Linked DNA regions of Homo sapiens: region 2 is linked to region 1. A link means that fine-mapping ties the variant in region 1 to the expression of a gene that starts in the linked region. Tissue or cell type: testis. Region 1 holds a variant in brackets; the other region holds the start of a gene. All regions are shown on one strand. Distances are from middle to middle.

Region 1 (8,344 bases):
CCATTCGAGTCCATTCGATCATTCCATTTGAGTTCATTCGATGATGATTCAATTCGAGTCCATTTGATAATTCTTTTTGAGTCCATTCGATGATGATTCCATTCAAGTCCATTCGATGATTGTATTCGATTCCATTCAATGATGATTCCATTCGAGTCCATTCGATGATTCCATTTCATTTCATTCGATGATGATTCCATTCAATTCCATTGAATGATTCCATTCGATTCCATTTGATGATGATTCCGTTCAATTCCATTCGATCATGATTCCTTTCGATTCCATTCGATGATGCTTCCATTTGATTTCGTTAGATGATTCTATTTGATTCCATTCGATGATGATTCCATTCTATTCCATTAGATGACTCCATTCCATTCCATTCTATGATGATTCTATTCGACTCCATTTGATGATGATTCCATTTGATTCCATTTGATAACGATTCCATTCATGTCCATTCGATGATTCCACTTAATTCTATTGAATGATGATTCCAAATGAGTCCGTTAGATGAATCCATTTGATTCCATTGGATGATGATTCCTTTTGATGCCATTTGATGATTCCCATCAATTTCATTTGATAATGATTCCATTCGATTCCATTCGATGATTCCATTCAATGATGATACCATTCGATGCCGTTTGATGGTTCCATTCGATTCTGTTAGATGATTCCTTTCAATTTCATTCAATGATGATTCCATTCGAGTCCATTCAATGCTTACATTCGATTACATTCGATTCCATTCAATGATGATGGCATTCGAGTCCATTCAATGATTCCATTCGATTTCATTCGATGATGATTCCATTCGATTCCATTCAATGGTCATTCAATTCAAGTCCATTCCTTGATTCCATTCGAGTCCATTTGATGATGATTCCATTCGAGTCCATTTGATGATTCTATTTGATTCCATTCTCCGATGATTACATTCGAGTCCATTTGTTGATTCCACTCGATTCCATACGATGATGATTCCATTCGATTCCATTTGATGTTTCCATTCTATTCCATTCAATGATGATTCCATTCGAGTACATTAGATGATTCCATTTGATTCCATTCAATGATGATTCTATTCGTGCCCATTAGATGATTCCACACGATTCCATTTGATGATGATACTCTTCGAGTCCATTCGATGATTCCTTTCGATTCCATTCAATGATTATTCCATTCTATTCCATTCATTGGTGATTCCATACATTTCCATTCATTGATTCAATTCCATTCCATTTGACAGTGATTCCATTCGATTCCATTCGATGATTCCACTCGATTCCACTTGATGATGATTCCATTTGATTCCATTCTATGATTCCATTTGATTCCATTCTATCATGATTGCCTTCGATTCCATTCTATGATTCCATTCGTTTCCATTCGATGATGATTCATTTTGATTCTATTTGATGATTCCATCTGATTCTATTCGAGGATTCCAATCAATTCCATTGGATGATAATTCCATTCGAATCCATTCGATGACTTCATTCAAGTCCATGCAATGATTACATTCGAGTCCATTTGATGATTCCATATGATTCCATTTTATGAATCCATTAAAATCCATTTGATGACTCCATTCAAGTCTATTCGATAATTCCATTCGAGTCCAGTCGATTATTCCATTCGATTCCATTTGATGATTCCATTCGAGTCCATTTGATCATTACATTCGAATCCATTCAGTGAATCCATTGGATTTCTTTTGATGATGAACCAATTCGATTCCATTTCATGATGATCCTATTCGACTCCATTCGATGATGATTCCATTTGAGTCCATTCGATGATTTCATTGAATTCCATTCAATGATGATTCCGTTCGAGTCCATTCGATCATTCCATTCGAGTCCCTTTGTTGATTCCATCCAATTTCATTTGATGATGATTCCATTAGAGTCCATTCAATTATTCCATGCGATTACATTTGATGATTACATTGGAGTCCATCCGATTATTCCATTAGAGTCCAATCGATGATTCCATTCGATTCCTTTTGATAATTCCATTTGAGTCCATTCGATGATCATTCCCTTTGATTCCATTCAATGTTTCCGTTCGATTCTATTCAATGATTCCCTTTGATTCCTTTCCATGATGATTCCATTCCCTTCCATTCGATGATTCCATTTGATTCTATTCCATGATGATTCCTTTCGATTCCATTCGCTGATGATTCCATTTGATTCCATTTGATGACGACTGCATTCGGTTCCATTCGATGATGATTCCAAAGGATTCTACTCGATTTCTCCATTTGATTCCATTCGTTGATGATTCCATTCGGTTCCATTACATGATGATTCCATTAGGTTCCATTCAATGATGATTTCATTTGATTCCATTCGAAGATGAATCCATGCGATTCCATTCAATGATGATTCCATTCGATTCCATTCGATGATTCCATTTGGTTCCAATTGATGATTATTCCATTCGAGTAAATTCAATGATTCCATTCAATTTCATTCAATGATGATTCCATTTGATTCCATTCAATGATTCCATTCAAGTCCATTTGATGATTCCCTTCAATTCCATTCGATGATGATTCCATTCGAGTCCATTCCATGATTCCATTTGATTCCATTTGATGATGATTCCATTCAAGTACATTCGATGATTCAATTCAATTGCATTTGATGATTCCATTCTATTCCATTCGATGATGTCTCCATTTAAGCCCATTTGATGATTCCATTCGAGTCCATTTCATGATTCTGTTGGGTTCAATTCAAAGATGACTACATTGGATTCCATTCTATGATTCCATTCGATTCCATTCGTTGATGATTCTGTTTGATTCCATTCGATGATTCCATCCGCGTCCATTCGATGATTCCATTTGGGTCCATTCGATGATACCATCCTATTCCATTTGATGATGATTCCATTCGAGTCCATTCAATGATTCCATTCGATTCCATTCGTTTCCATTTGATAGTGATTCCATTCGAGTCCATTCGATGATTCCATTCTATTCCATTCCTTCATGATTCCATTTGATTCCATTCGATGATGATTCCATCTGATTCCCTTCATTCGTGTTTCCATTGGATTCCTTTCGATGATGATTTCATTCGACTCCATTCGATGATGATTCCATTTGATTTCATTCGATGATTCTGTTCGTTTCCATTCGATGATGACTCCATTCTAATCCAATCGATGTTTCCATTCGATGTCATTCGATGATGACTCCATTTTATTCCATTTGATGATTCCATTGGATTCCATTCGATGATGATTTCATTCGATTCCATTCAATGATGATTCCATTGGTGTCAATTCGATAATTACATTTGATTTTATTTGATTATGATTCCATTTGCGTCAATTTGATGATTCCATTCGATTCCATTCCATGATGATTCCATTGAAGCCCAGTCGATGACTGCATTCGAGTTCATTTGATGATTCCATTCGATTCCATTTGATTATGATTCCATTCAATTCCATTCAATGATGACTCTGTTCGGTTCCATTTGATGATGAATCCATTCGATTCCTTTCAATGATGATTTCATTCAGTTACATTCGATGATGATTCCATTGGATTCCATTCGATGATGATTCCATTGTAGTCCATTCGATGATGATTCCATTTGATTTCTTTTGATGATTCCATTTGAGTCCATTCGATGATGATTCCATTCTATTCCCTTCAATGATTCCATTCAATTCCATTCGACGATGATTCTATTCGATGCCATTTGATGATGATTCCATTCTATTCCATTCAGTGATGATTCCATTTGTGTCCATTCGATATTTCCATTCGATTCCAATTGATGATTATTCCATTCGAGTCCGTTAGATGATTCCATTTGATTCCATTCGATGATGATTCCATTCGGTGCCATTCGATTATTCCATTTGATTTCATTCAATGATGATTCCATTGATTTCTTTTTGATTATTCCTTTCCATTCCATTTGATGATTATTCCATTCGAGTCCATTCGATGATTCCATTCGATTCCATTCGATGGTGACTCCATTCGTGTCCATTCGAAGATTCAATGCAATTTTATTTTATGATGGTTACATTCGATACTATTCAATGATTCCATTCGATTCCATCTGATGATGATTCCATTCGAGTCCATTCCATGATTCCATTCAATTCTATTCGATGATTATTCCATTCTAGTCCATTAGATGATTCCATTCGAGTCCATTCGATGATTCCATACGATTCAATTCAATGATGATTCCATTCGAGTCCATTTGATGCTTCCATTCGAGTACATTTGGTGATTCCTTTCAAGTCCAATTTTTCATTCCATTCAATTCCAATT[G/A]ATGATGATTCCATATGATTCCATTCGATGATGATTCCATGTGATTCCATTCAATGATGATTGCATTCTAGTCCATTCAATGATTTCATTCAATTCCATTCGATGATGATTCCATTCAATTCCATTAATTGGTGATTCCATTCATTTCCATTCATTGATTCCATTCCATTCCAATCGACAATGATTCCACTAGATTCCATTAGATCATTCCACTCGATTAAACCTGACGATGACTCTATTCAATTCTATTCGATGATTCAATTTGATTCTATTCGATGATGATTCCATTCAATTCCATTCTATGTTGATTGTGTTCAATTCCATTCAATGATTCCATTCGAGTCCATTTGATGATTCTGTTCAATTCCATTCCATGATGATTCCATTAGAGTCCATTCTATGATTCCGTTCGATTCCATTTGATTCCATTCAATGATGATTGCATTCGTTTCCATTCGATGATTCCATTCGATTCCATTCGATGTTGTTTCCATTTGAGTACATTCGATGATTCCATTCGAGTCCATTCGATGATTCCATACGATTCAATTCAATGATGATTCCATTCGAGTCCCTTCATTGACTCCATTCGTTTCCATTCTCTGATGACTGCATTCGGTTTCATTCAATGATGATTCCAACGGATTACATTCGATTTCTCCATTCGATTCCATTCCTTGCTGATTCCATTCGATTCCTTTAGATGATGACTCCACTAGATTCCATTCGATGATGACTTCATTAGATTCCATTCGATAAGGATTCCATTCCATTCTATTCAATGATGATTCTATTCAATTCCATCTGATGGTGATTGCATTCGTTTCCATTTCATGATTCCATTCGATTCCATTCAATGATGATTCCATTCGAGTCCATTCAATGATTCCACTCAAGTCCATTTGATGTTTCCTTTTGATTGCATTTGATGATGATTCCATTTGAGATCATTCGATGATTCCATTCAATTCCGTTCGATGATTATTCCATTCGAGTCCTTTCGATGATTCCATTCAATTCCATTCAATGATGATTCCATTCGATTCCATTCAATAATTCCATTCAAGTCCATTCTATAATTCCATCTGTTTCCATTCGATGATGATTCCATTCGAGCCCATTCGATGATTCCATTCGATTCCATTCCATGATGATTCCATTGAAGCACAGTCAATGATTGCATTCGTGTCCATTTGATGATTCCATTCGATTACGATTCCATTCAATTCCGTTTGATGATGACTCTGTTCGGTTCCATTTGATGATGAATCCATTCGATTCCTTTAAATGGTGATTCCATTCAATTACATTCGACGATGATTCCATTCAATTACTTTTGATGATGATTCCATTTGATTCTATTCGATGATGATTCCATTTGATTTCATTCGATGATTTTATTTGATTCCATTCGATGATGATTCCATTATCTTCTGTGCGATGATTCCATTCGATTCCATTCAATGACGATTCTATTCGATTTGATTTCTTAGTGATTCCATTCGATTCCATTCGGTGATGAATTCATTTGTGTCCATTCGATGTTTCCATTCGATTCCATTCAATGATTATTCCTTTTGTGTCCATTAGATGGTTCCATTTGATTCCATTCGATGATGATTCCATTCAGTGCCATTCAATTATTCCATTTGATCTCAATCGATGAAGATTCCATTGATTTCATTTGATTATTCCTTTCCATTCCATTAGATGATTAATCCATATGAGTCTGTTTCATGATTCCATTCGATTCCATTCAATGATGACTCCATTCGTGTCCATTCCATGATTTATTGCAATTTCATTTGATGATTATTACATTTGATTCTATTCGATGATTCCATTCGATTCCATTTGGTGATGATTCCTTTCGAGTCCATTCGATAATTCCATTCGATTCCATTTGATGATGATTCCATTAGAGTCGATTCGATGATACCATTCAATTCCATTCGGTGGTGATTCCATTTGATTCCATTCGATGATGATTCCTTTCGAGTCCATTCAGTGATTCCATTCAAGTCCATTCGTTGATTCCTTTTGATTCCATTTGATGATGATACCAATTGAGACCATTCGATGATTTCATTTGATTTCATTCTATGATGATTCCATTCAGTTCCATTCGTTGATTCCATTCTATTCCATTCATTGATGATTACATTTGAGTCCATTCGATGGTTGCATTCGACTCAATGTAATGATTCTATTGGGTTCAATTCGATGATGATTACATTGGATTCCATTCGATGATGATTACATTGGATTCCATTCAATGATTCCATTCGATTCCATTTCTTGATTATTCCATTCGAATCCTGTCAATGATGATTCCATTTGATTCCATTCTTTGATGATTCAATATGATTCCATTCGATGATGATTCGATTTGATTCCATTTGATGATGATTCCATTCGATTCCATTCGATGATGATTCCATTCGATTTCATTTGATGATTCTATTCGATTCCATTCGATGTTGATTCAATTCTAATCCATTCGAGGCTTCCATTCGATTCCATTGGATGACGATTCCATTCAATTGAATTCTATGATGATTCCCTTTGATTGCATTTGACGATTACTCCATCTGAGTGCGTTCGAAGATTACATTTGATTCCATTTGATCATGATTCCGTTCGAGTCCAATCAAAGATTAGATTCGATTCCATTTGATGATGATTCCATTCGAGTCCAATCAAAGATTAGATTCGATTCCATTCGTTGATGATTCCGTTCAAGTCCAATCAAAGATTAGATTCGATTCCATTCGATGATGATTCCATTCAAATCCATTCGATGATTCCATTCCATTCCATTTGATGATGATTCTGTTCAATTCCATTTGATGATGATTCCATTCAATTCCATTCGATGATGTTTCCATTTGATTTCATTCGATGATGATTCCATTTGAGTCCATTCAATGTTTCCATTTGAATCCTTTTGATAATTGTTTTAATTATATTCGATGATGATTCCATTCGTGTCCATTCGTTGTTTCCATTTGATTCCATTCAATCATGATTCCATTCCGGTCCACTAGATGTTTCCATTCAATGATGTTTCTATTGCAGTGCAATAGATGATTCCATTCAATTCCATTCAATGATGATTCCATTCTATTCAATTCTATGGTGATTCCATTCGGATTCATTTGATGATTCCTTTGGATACCATTCGATGATGATTCCATTCTATTCCATTCAATGATGATTCCATTCATGTCCAATAGATCATTCCATTTGATTCCATTCGATGATGATTCCATTCTATTCCATTCGATGATGATTCCACTCGTGTTAATTAGATGATTCCTCTCTATTCCATTCGATGATGATGCTATTTGATACCATTCTGTGATTACATTTGAATCCATTCGATGTTGATTCCATTTGATTTCATTTGCTGATTCTATTCGATTCCATTCGACGATAATTCCATTCGATTCCATTTGATGATTCCATTTAATTACATTTGATGATGATTCCATTCGAGTCCATTCGATGACTCCATTTGATTGTATTCGATGATTATTCCATTCGAGTCCATTCGATGATTCCTTCTGATTCTATTTGATGATGATTCCATTTGAGTCCATTCAATGGTGATAAAATTCGATTCAATTCGATGATTCCATTCAATTCCATTCAATGATGATTGCCTTCTATTCCATTCGTTGATTCCATTCGATTCCTTTGAAAGATGATTTCATTCGATTCCATTCCACAATTCCATTCGATTCCATCCGATGATTCCAATGGATTCCATTTGATGATCATTCCTTTCGAGTCCATACAATGATGCCATTCAATTCCATTCGATGATGATTCCATTCGTGTGCATTCGATGATTCCAATTGATACAATTCAATGATGATTCCATTCAAGTCCATCTGTTGACTGTTTTCTATTCCATTCTATAATGATTCAGTTCGAGTCCATTTGATGATTCAATTCGAGGCCTTTCAATGATTCCATTCAATTCCATTCGAAGCTGATTCGGTTCGAGTCCATTCGATGCTTCCC
Region 2 (8,344 bases), 460 kb after region 1:
AGAAGATAAATTGTTATTATCTTAAGCAAGACTCTTATAATTATGCAGTGTTTTATGTAAGCCTCGGTAATTACAAGAAAAAAATTACAATAGATATAAAAAAGAAAAAGGATCAAAGCATATAACAACAGTAAAAGCAAAAAAAAAAATTAGCAAAAGCACAAAGGAAGACAGCATAAAATCTACTAAATGATCAGACAGCAATTAACAAATTGGCAGTAATAAGTACTTGCCTATCAATAATTTTTTAAATATAAAAGTCTAATTATCTAATAAAAACACGCTGTTATGGTATAAATGTCCCCTCCAAAATTTATGTTAAAATTTAACTCCCTTTGTTACAAAATTAGGAAGATAGACATTTAAGAATTTACTGGCTGGGTGCAGTGGCTCACGCCTGTAATCCCAGCACTTTGGGAGGCTGAGGCAGTTGGATCAGGAGGTCAGGAGATCGAGACCATCCTGGCTAACACAGTGAAACCCTGTCTCTACTAAAAATATAAAAAATTAGCGGGCGTGGTGTTGGGTGCCTGTAGTCCCAGCTACTCAGGAGGCTGAGGCAGGAGAATGGCATGAACCCGGGAGGCGGAGCTTGCAGTGAGCCGAGATGTCGCCACTGCACTCCAGCGTAGGCGACAGTGTGAGACTCCGTCTCAAAAAACAAAACCAAAACAAAAACAAAAGTTTGTAGGGACATGGATGAAATTGGAAACCATTATTCTCAGTAAACTATCGCAAGAACAAAAAACCAAACACCGCATATTCTCACTCATAGGTGGGAATTGAACAATGAGATCACATGGACACAGGAAGGGGAATATCACACTCTGGGGACTGTGGTGGGGTGGGGGGAGGGGGGAGGGATAGCATTGGGAGATATACCTAATGCTAGATGACGAGTTAGTGGGTGCAGCGCACCAGCATGGCACATGTATACATATGTAACTAACCTGCACAATGTGCACATGTACCCTAAAACTTAAAGTATAATAAAAAAAAAAAAAAAAAAACTAAAACAAAAAAACAAAAGCCGGGCGCGATGGCTCACGCCTGTAATCCCAGCACTTTGGGAAGTCGAGGCGAGTGGATCACGAGGTCAGGAGATCGAGGCTAGCTTGACCAACATGGTGAAACTCTGTCTCTACTAAAAATAGAAAAGTTAGCTGGCGTGGCGGTAAGCGCCTGTAATCCCAGGTACTAGGGAGGCTGAGGCAGGAGAATCGCTTGATCCTGGCAGGCGGAGGTTGCAGTGAGCCAAGATTGCACCACTCCACTCCAGCCTGGGCGACAGAAAGAATTTGCTAGGCCATGAGGGCTCTACTCTCATGAATGAATTAATGTCGTTATTTCCAGAATGAATTAGTTGTCGTGAGAGTGGTTCCATTATAAAAGTAAGCTCTCTGGTGTACACCTTCTGTCCTCGTTATGCCTTTGACCATTTTGTGACGTGGAAATATGATTCTCATCAGATGGCAATGGCATGTTCTTGGACTTTCAGCCTCTAAAGAAATGAGCTAAGTAAACTTCTATTCTTTATAGTTTACCCACTCTAGGATATTCTGTTTTTGAAGCAGAAAATGAACTGAAACATTCACAAATGTCTAAAGAGATTAACAAATTTACCAGTATATTTTACATAAGAAATTTTTTAGATTTAAGGGCATGCATAAGTTGCTGGTTAAATAATAAAAAAATACTATGCCAATAATAACTAAAAGAGTATATTAGTGGCTATATTTATATAAGACAAAATAGACTTCTAGAAAAAAATCTGTCAGGAGATATAGAGAAGTTGACTATATAATGATAACAAGCTGATCTGTCAAAAGGCTATAACTATATATGAACCCAACATTGGAGCACATAAATATATAAACATATGTATATATGTATATAATATAATAATAGTATGTCTATATAATATTTATATAAGAATGTATTTTATATATGACTGTAGAAAAAAACATAATTATTATCGTAATAGAAGATGCTATTACTCTACTTAAAACGTTTTAAGTAGTAAGAAAACAATGTACTTGCAAAGCACTATAGAACAAGTGCACCTAACAGTGATAAACAGAATATTTCATTCAACAGTATTTGAATACACATTCTTCTTGAGCACACATGGAATATTATCCAGGATATATCGTATGTTGGGCCAACAACAACAAGAAAATCTCTAAAAATTTAAAAAGATTAAAATTAATGAACTTTTTAAATTACAGTTTTTTAAAACTAGAGATCAATAAGAGAAAAAAATTTAAAAACTCACAAATATGTGGATATTAAACAACATATTTCTGAAAAACACATGGTCAAAGGGGAAAAGAAAAAAGAAATCACAAAGTATCTTGAGAAAAGTAGAAATAAAAACACAACATACAACAACTTCTGGGATGCAAAAAAGCAGTTCTAAGACAAAAGGTAACACTGATATATTTCTATAATAAGAAGAAAGAAAGATCTCAAATAAGCAGCATGACTTTGATTTGCAAAAACCTTGAAAAAAACTAATTACTCTCAATGTTAACACAATACACAAAATAATAAAAAAAGAACAGAGATTCAATAAAAACTTGAAAGACAACAAAAAACATAAAAGCAGATAATAATTTACATATGAAAGTTATCTAAATTAAATAATTTAAAAAATGAGAAAATTTTCTTTTTTATTTTCAAATTGAAAGATTAAATCTCTTATTTTTATTTTGTGTTTATGCTTACAATAAACTGGTTGCAAAATTTTATCCTGAACTCTTAGACATTCTATTTCCAGTAGGGTTTGTATTTAGGCACATGGGTTTGTGAAAGAGGGTTTGTGGAGAAGAAAAAAGCAGACTAAGAGAAAGTGATACAAAAAAACCCATGAGTAGGGAACAGTGCATAGTTGGTGAAAGGACTGGTTAGTGCTATAGACACTGGCACACACAGGGTAACTCTGATTTCTAAATGTGTGTATGCAGGCAGATGAGATGGACAGAGGGTCGAGAAGCCTAGGCTACTGGAGAAAATAGGTCACGGTGCAGATGCAAGATCTGGGCATAGAAGTAAGCCATGAGTCCACTGGGCACTTATGTAGCATATTAGTGGAAAACTCTAGAAGGAGAGGTTCTGTCAGCACAGTTTCTCAGGGTGATGCCTTGTCATGGGAGGGGTGTATCTACATCATTGCCTAGTGTGTATGTGTGTGAGTGTGCAGGAATCACTTTATAGCAGCAGGGTGAGGAGAGGAGTCTTCCTTCAGAACTCCATCCCTTTTAATCCTCAGTTCCCTCTGACCCCTAGATGGGACCTATTGTCACAAGACAATTCACACTGTGACAGCATGTGTGTAAAAGAATAGAGTCTTTATTCCCCAAAAGACCCACAGTATACCTCCAGCCGAGGCTGCTGTGATGTCTTTGTTCTAACACCAAATACATGGAGTTTGTTGAACACCAACCAATTCATCAACACCAACTGGGAGTTTAACATCTTAATTCTGACACCACCCAGAGTTGGCATAGACTCCACAAGTTCAGGACTCAGTCCCACAGCACCATCCCCACTGCACATGCCTGTCACAACGAACATGGGCACGTCTATGCTTCTGAGCATCTATCTATAAATCATAAGCTCCCATAACCCTTTTCATGAAGTTTAATAATTAATAAAACTACTCACAGAACTTGGCAAAACATTTCACCTATGCTTGCCAGGTTATTATAATAAATACAGTTCAGAAAAAGCCAAATGCAAAAAATGGATACAGCAAAGAAAAGCATAAAAGAAAGACAGGGTGGGTAGTGAGTCCTGGTAAATAGTGACATTTAAGAAAACTCTCTAATTCTTTGTGTTCTGTGAGAAAACTTACTGCAGAGAAACACCTTTACCATTGTTACCTAGATGGTACATCCTGTTTTAGATATCACAGATTCATAGATTCTCCACATTCCCATTTGCTCCTCATAAACAATTAAATACTTTTGTCTTCAGAGTTCAGAAGAAAATACTTGTTAGGCACAGGTTGCTTGTTTCTTTTTTCCCCCGGGACCCTGGCCTCTGCTCCGTCTTCAGTCTGAGTAAACATATAACCATACAACCCCTTTTATGCCCCTCCCAAGAACAGGCTGATTTCAGGGTGAAACCATCTCTAATCTTGAAGGATTTTGTCACTCTCCATGGGGCCCTTCCTCTCCCACCCTTCTTTCTAATATACCTTGCTCCTCCATTTCAAAGACAGCTCTTTTCTGCCTAGTATTTTAGATGTTTGCAGATATTATGCTTGATGCTTCCACCATTGCAATACTTCTTTAGGTTAAAGTCTCTGAATTTATTTTATTTGAAAATATCTAGAAACAGCCCCAGGACAATAACAATTACACCCTCACAGAGAACATCTCAGTCGTCCTCCTATCTCACATGACACTGTATCTGCCTGTGGATCTCCACAGTTGAGAAGGTGATATACATTTTGGCCCAGCTCACAGGCACTATGATAAATCTTATACATGAGCCAAGCCAAAAGGAGAGATTTTGACTCTCATAGCTAGGCTTCAAGCAATGGGTAAAGTCCTGGATCTTCTACTTTTATGAAGGTCAAAGGATTATAAAACCCATGTGTGTTGAATATACCCCTTGAGTGGTACAGAGAGTGTCATAACAGGACCCAGTTCACAGGTGAGATATAGAGATCTGTATGGCCACAGAACCAAAAGTAGAAATTGTCACATGCCCACATGTACATAACCCACAACTGAGGTTCTAAGCTCACACCCATGGGCAGGGGGAAGTTGGAGTTGTGACTCTCACAGGTGGATCCAGTCCACAGGCGAAATGGTGACTCTCTCACCAAGATTCAGCACAGCATTGAGGCTGTGACTCCCTTACCAGGACATAGCTTGGAGAAGGGATTGGGGCTCTCATGTGAGGATGCAGTCCACTGTTGAGATTGTGACTCAAGTACTTGGACCCAACGCAACAGGAGTTCTACCTGGAGTGGAGAAATGTTTGGATTTGGAGGTCTCATTACTGGGCCTTCCCACAGGTATAATTGTGACATACAACTAGAACCTTAGTGATTTCACAGTGCTTCTGGGCTCAGCACAGATATATCTTGTGACTTATACCTGGAATAAACACCTAGGTGATGTGACTATTTTGCCTAGACACTTCCTTCAAAGGAATTGTGATGTATCTCTCTACTTTGCACCTAGGTGATATAAATCTTTTCCCCTACTTAGACCCTGCTCACAGGTAAGGTTATAACATATCACTAAGCCTGGTACTTAATGATGTGACTCTCTGATCCTGTTTGTGCCCTGCCCTCAAGAAGCATTGTGACATCACTGGGCTAAGCAACAAGGTAATCTTGCTTATGTGTGTCTTCTGTCTAGGCCATGTGCACAGGGGGCATTGAGAAATATCTCTGGACCAATCACCTAAAAGATGTGACTCTCCTCACTTGCCTGGACTCTGCTCAGAATAGAGATTTCGACACATCAGTGGGTTCAACACCTAGGTGATGCGGCTCTTCCTTCTTTTCTGGGCTCTTCCATCAGAGAAGATTGTGACATTTTCTGAGCCCAGCACTCAAGTGAGGTGACTTGTCTCCCTGGACTCTCCCCACAGACAGCATTGTGAAATATCTTTGGGATCATCACCTAGGTAATGTGAATCGCCTCTGCTTCATGGGCTTTGCACTCAAAAGGGCTTGTGATTTTCATGGGAAGCACCACCCAAGTGATTTGATTCTTTTGGATGGGGGGCTGGGATCTGCCAACAGGAATAATTTTTACATATTGCTTGGCTAAACCCCTAGTTAATAGGACTCTTATCTCCTACTTGGGCCCTCCCTGCAGTGTGTTTTGTGTCATATCTTTGGGCTGAGCACGGAGGAGTTGAGACACTCCTTCCTTGGCACTCCCCAAAGGGAATATTATTACATATCTTTGGGCCAGTCACATAGGTGATGTGACTCTCCTCTATTGCCTGGAAACTTTTTACAGTTGGGATTGTAACATATTGCTGGGTCCAGCACCAGGTGATGTTATTCTTATCCCAGGGCCCAGCCCACAGAAGAAATTGTGGCATATCTCTGGGCCCATCACCTAGGTGATGTGGTTCTGCTCTTCTGCCTGGACACTTTCCCCAAGAGTAATTGGGACATATTGTTGGGCCCAGCTCCCAGGTGATGTAACTATCCTGCCTTGGCTCTGTGCACAGGGGGGATTGTGACATATTTCTTGGCCAAGCAGCTGGGTGATATGACTCTCCTGAATGGGCCCTGCTCCCAGAGAGGATTGTGACCCATCACTGGGCCAATCATGTGGGTGATGTGTTTCTGCTCTGTTGCCTGGGCTCTGGCCAAAGTAAGAATTGTGACATATAGCTGACCCAGCACCCAGGTGATTAAACTTTTGTGACTGGTCCCTGCTCACAGGTAAAATTGTGACATATATATAGTCACAGGTTAAAAGTGAAATGATGACTGTCATACGTGGGATCCAGCTAAGAGAAGAGATTTTGACCCTCATAGCTAGGGTTAGGGCAACAGTCATGGTCCTTGGTCTCTTACTTTAACAAAGGTCATAGTGTATTATGACACCAAAGCACATTGTATAAAGCCCTCAGGTGGTACAGAGTGTGTCATAACAGGACCCACACAAAGGTGAGGCTGTGACTCTCATATGTACATCCAGCTGACAGAATTGTCATCCTCACACATGGCCAGTACTCAGTGGTGAGGTCCTAAATCTCATGTGCAAACGCAATACAGATTTGGAATTGTGACTGTCATACATAGATGCAGCCACAGGTGAGATAGTGACTCATTTTTGAACCCATCTCACAGGCACAGCAATAAAGCTTATACCTGGGCCCAGTCAACAAGAGAAATTCACAATCCTGGACATTTTCCAGCTAAAGGTATTAGAGTCAACCCGTCTTGTGGGTTGAGTCCAAGTATGCAAGTTAATCACAACAGTGGAGTAAATCAGTACACAAAAGCCCAAATCTCACCTGAAGACTATGTTTTAATAGGGAAATTACAGTCCCCAGGTGTTCTAAATCCTGGTCTTGGAGTTATCATCCCATCTGTGGATTGGATTGATTTATGAGGTTCACATTTCCAACTTTATGGCCTCTTGACATGTGATTCAGAACCTCAACAGTGGGCTTTGTTCATGTCGGAGGGTGACAATCCTTACTTGTGGCTGGGTGTGCATACAACTGCCACATTTTCACCTATGTGATGAACTACATTATGGCATTTTTTGTAGCACTTGATGGCTTTATACAATGTGCACGAAGGTCAAAACACTCCATGACCACCCTACAAGTTGAAGACCCAGGACCTTCATTTTTGCCATAAGACTAACTACAAGAGTCAAAATGTTTTCAGGTATGAGTCATCATCCCACCTGTAAGCTGTGCCTATGTATATTTCACAATTCCAATTGTGGAGAGAGACAAGGCACCAGAGTCACATCACCTGGATGCTGGCCACAGATATGTCACAATTCCCACTTTAGCCAGGATCTAGGCAGCAGAGGAGCCCCAACACCTAGGTGATTGGCCCAGTGAGAGGTCAAAATCCCCCCTTGGAGCAAGAGCAATTCAGGAGGGTCATATGACCTAGGTACTGGAAATAGCAATGTGTCAAAATGCCCTCTGTGGGCAGGGCCAAGGCAGGACAGTTACATAACCTGGGAGCTGGGCCTGGTGATACGTCGCAATGCCTCTTGGGGGCAGGTTCAGGCAGGAAGGCAGAGTTACATCACCTAGGTGATAGGCCCAGAGAGATTTCACAATACCTTCTCTAATTAGAACCCAGGCAGAGAAGTTACATCATTTGCATTAAGGGCCCAGTGATATGCCTGTCACAATCTCAACTAAAGGCAGGGCCTGGGCAGGAAAGAAGAGTCACTTCACTTTGAGGATTGCCCCAGAGATATACCATAATTTCCCCTGAGGGCAGGGCTCATGCTGAAGAGTCATATAAATAAAGTGCATGGTCCAGGTGTATGTGACAATCTCAACTGTACACTGGGCCCAGGCAAGAAAGTAAAATCAACCAGGTGCTGGGAAAGGGTATATATCACAATCACACCAGAAGAAAGTTTTCAGGATAAGATTCAAAATCCCACTAATGTCCCAGCTTCACTTATGACAGTCAACATATCTTGTGAGATGTGTTCAAGTACTCGAGTCACAACCTCAACAGTGGACTTGATCAGTGCATGAGAATCTGAACTCCTCTTGCAGACAGTGTCCCAGTAGGGGAGTAACAGCCTCACAGGCGTTCTGAATCTTGGTGTGAGAGTCACCATCCTACCTGTGGACTGCATCCATGTGTGAGAGT

Evidence for each region. PIP is the estimated chance that this variant, and not a neighbour inherited with it, causes the effect.
Region 2: it holds the start of LINC01566, and the variant in region 1 is the best candidate, but not a certain one, in a credible set for the expression of LINC01566 in testis (GTEx, PIP 0.57).

The regions. Positions count from the first base shown.
Region 1 is chr16:34,895,956-34,904,299 of GRCh38, forward strand. No RefSeq gene overlaps it. Among named protein-coding and RNA genes, the nearest start is that of LINC02184, 80 kb to the right of the region's middle. The variant G/A (reference allele first, on the strand shown) is at 4,316.
Region 2 is chr16:35,358,182-35,366,525 of GRCh38, forward strand. It overlaps LINC01566 (long intergenic non-protein coding RNA 1566), which reads left to right and starts at 5,235. Exons shown (of 7, transcript NR_027080.2): 1 at 5,235-5,347.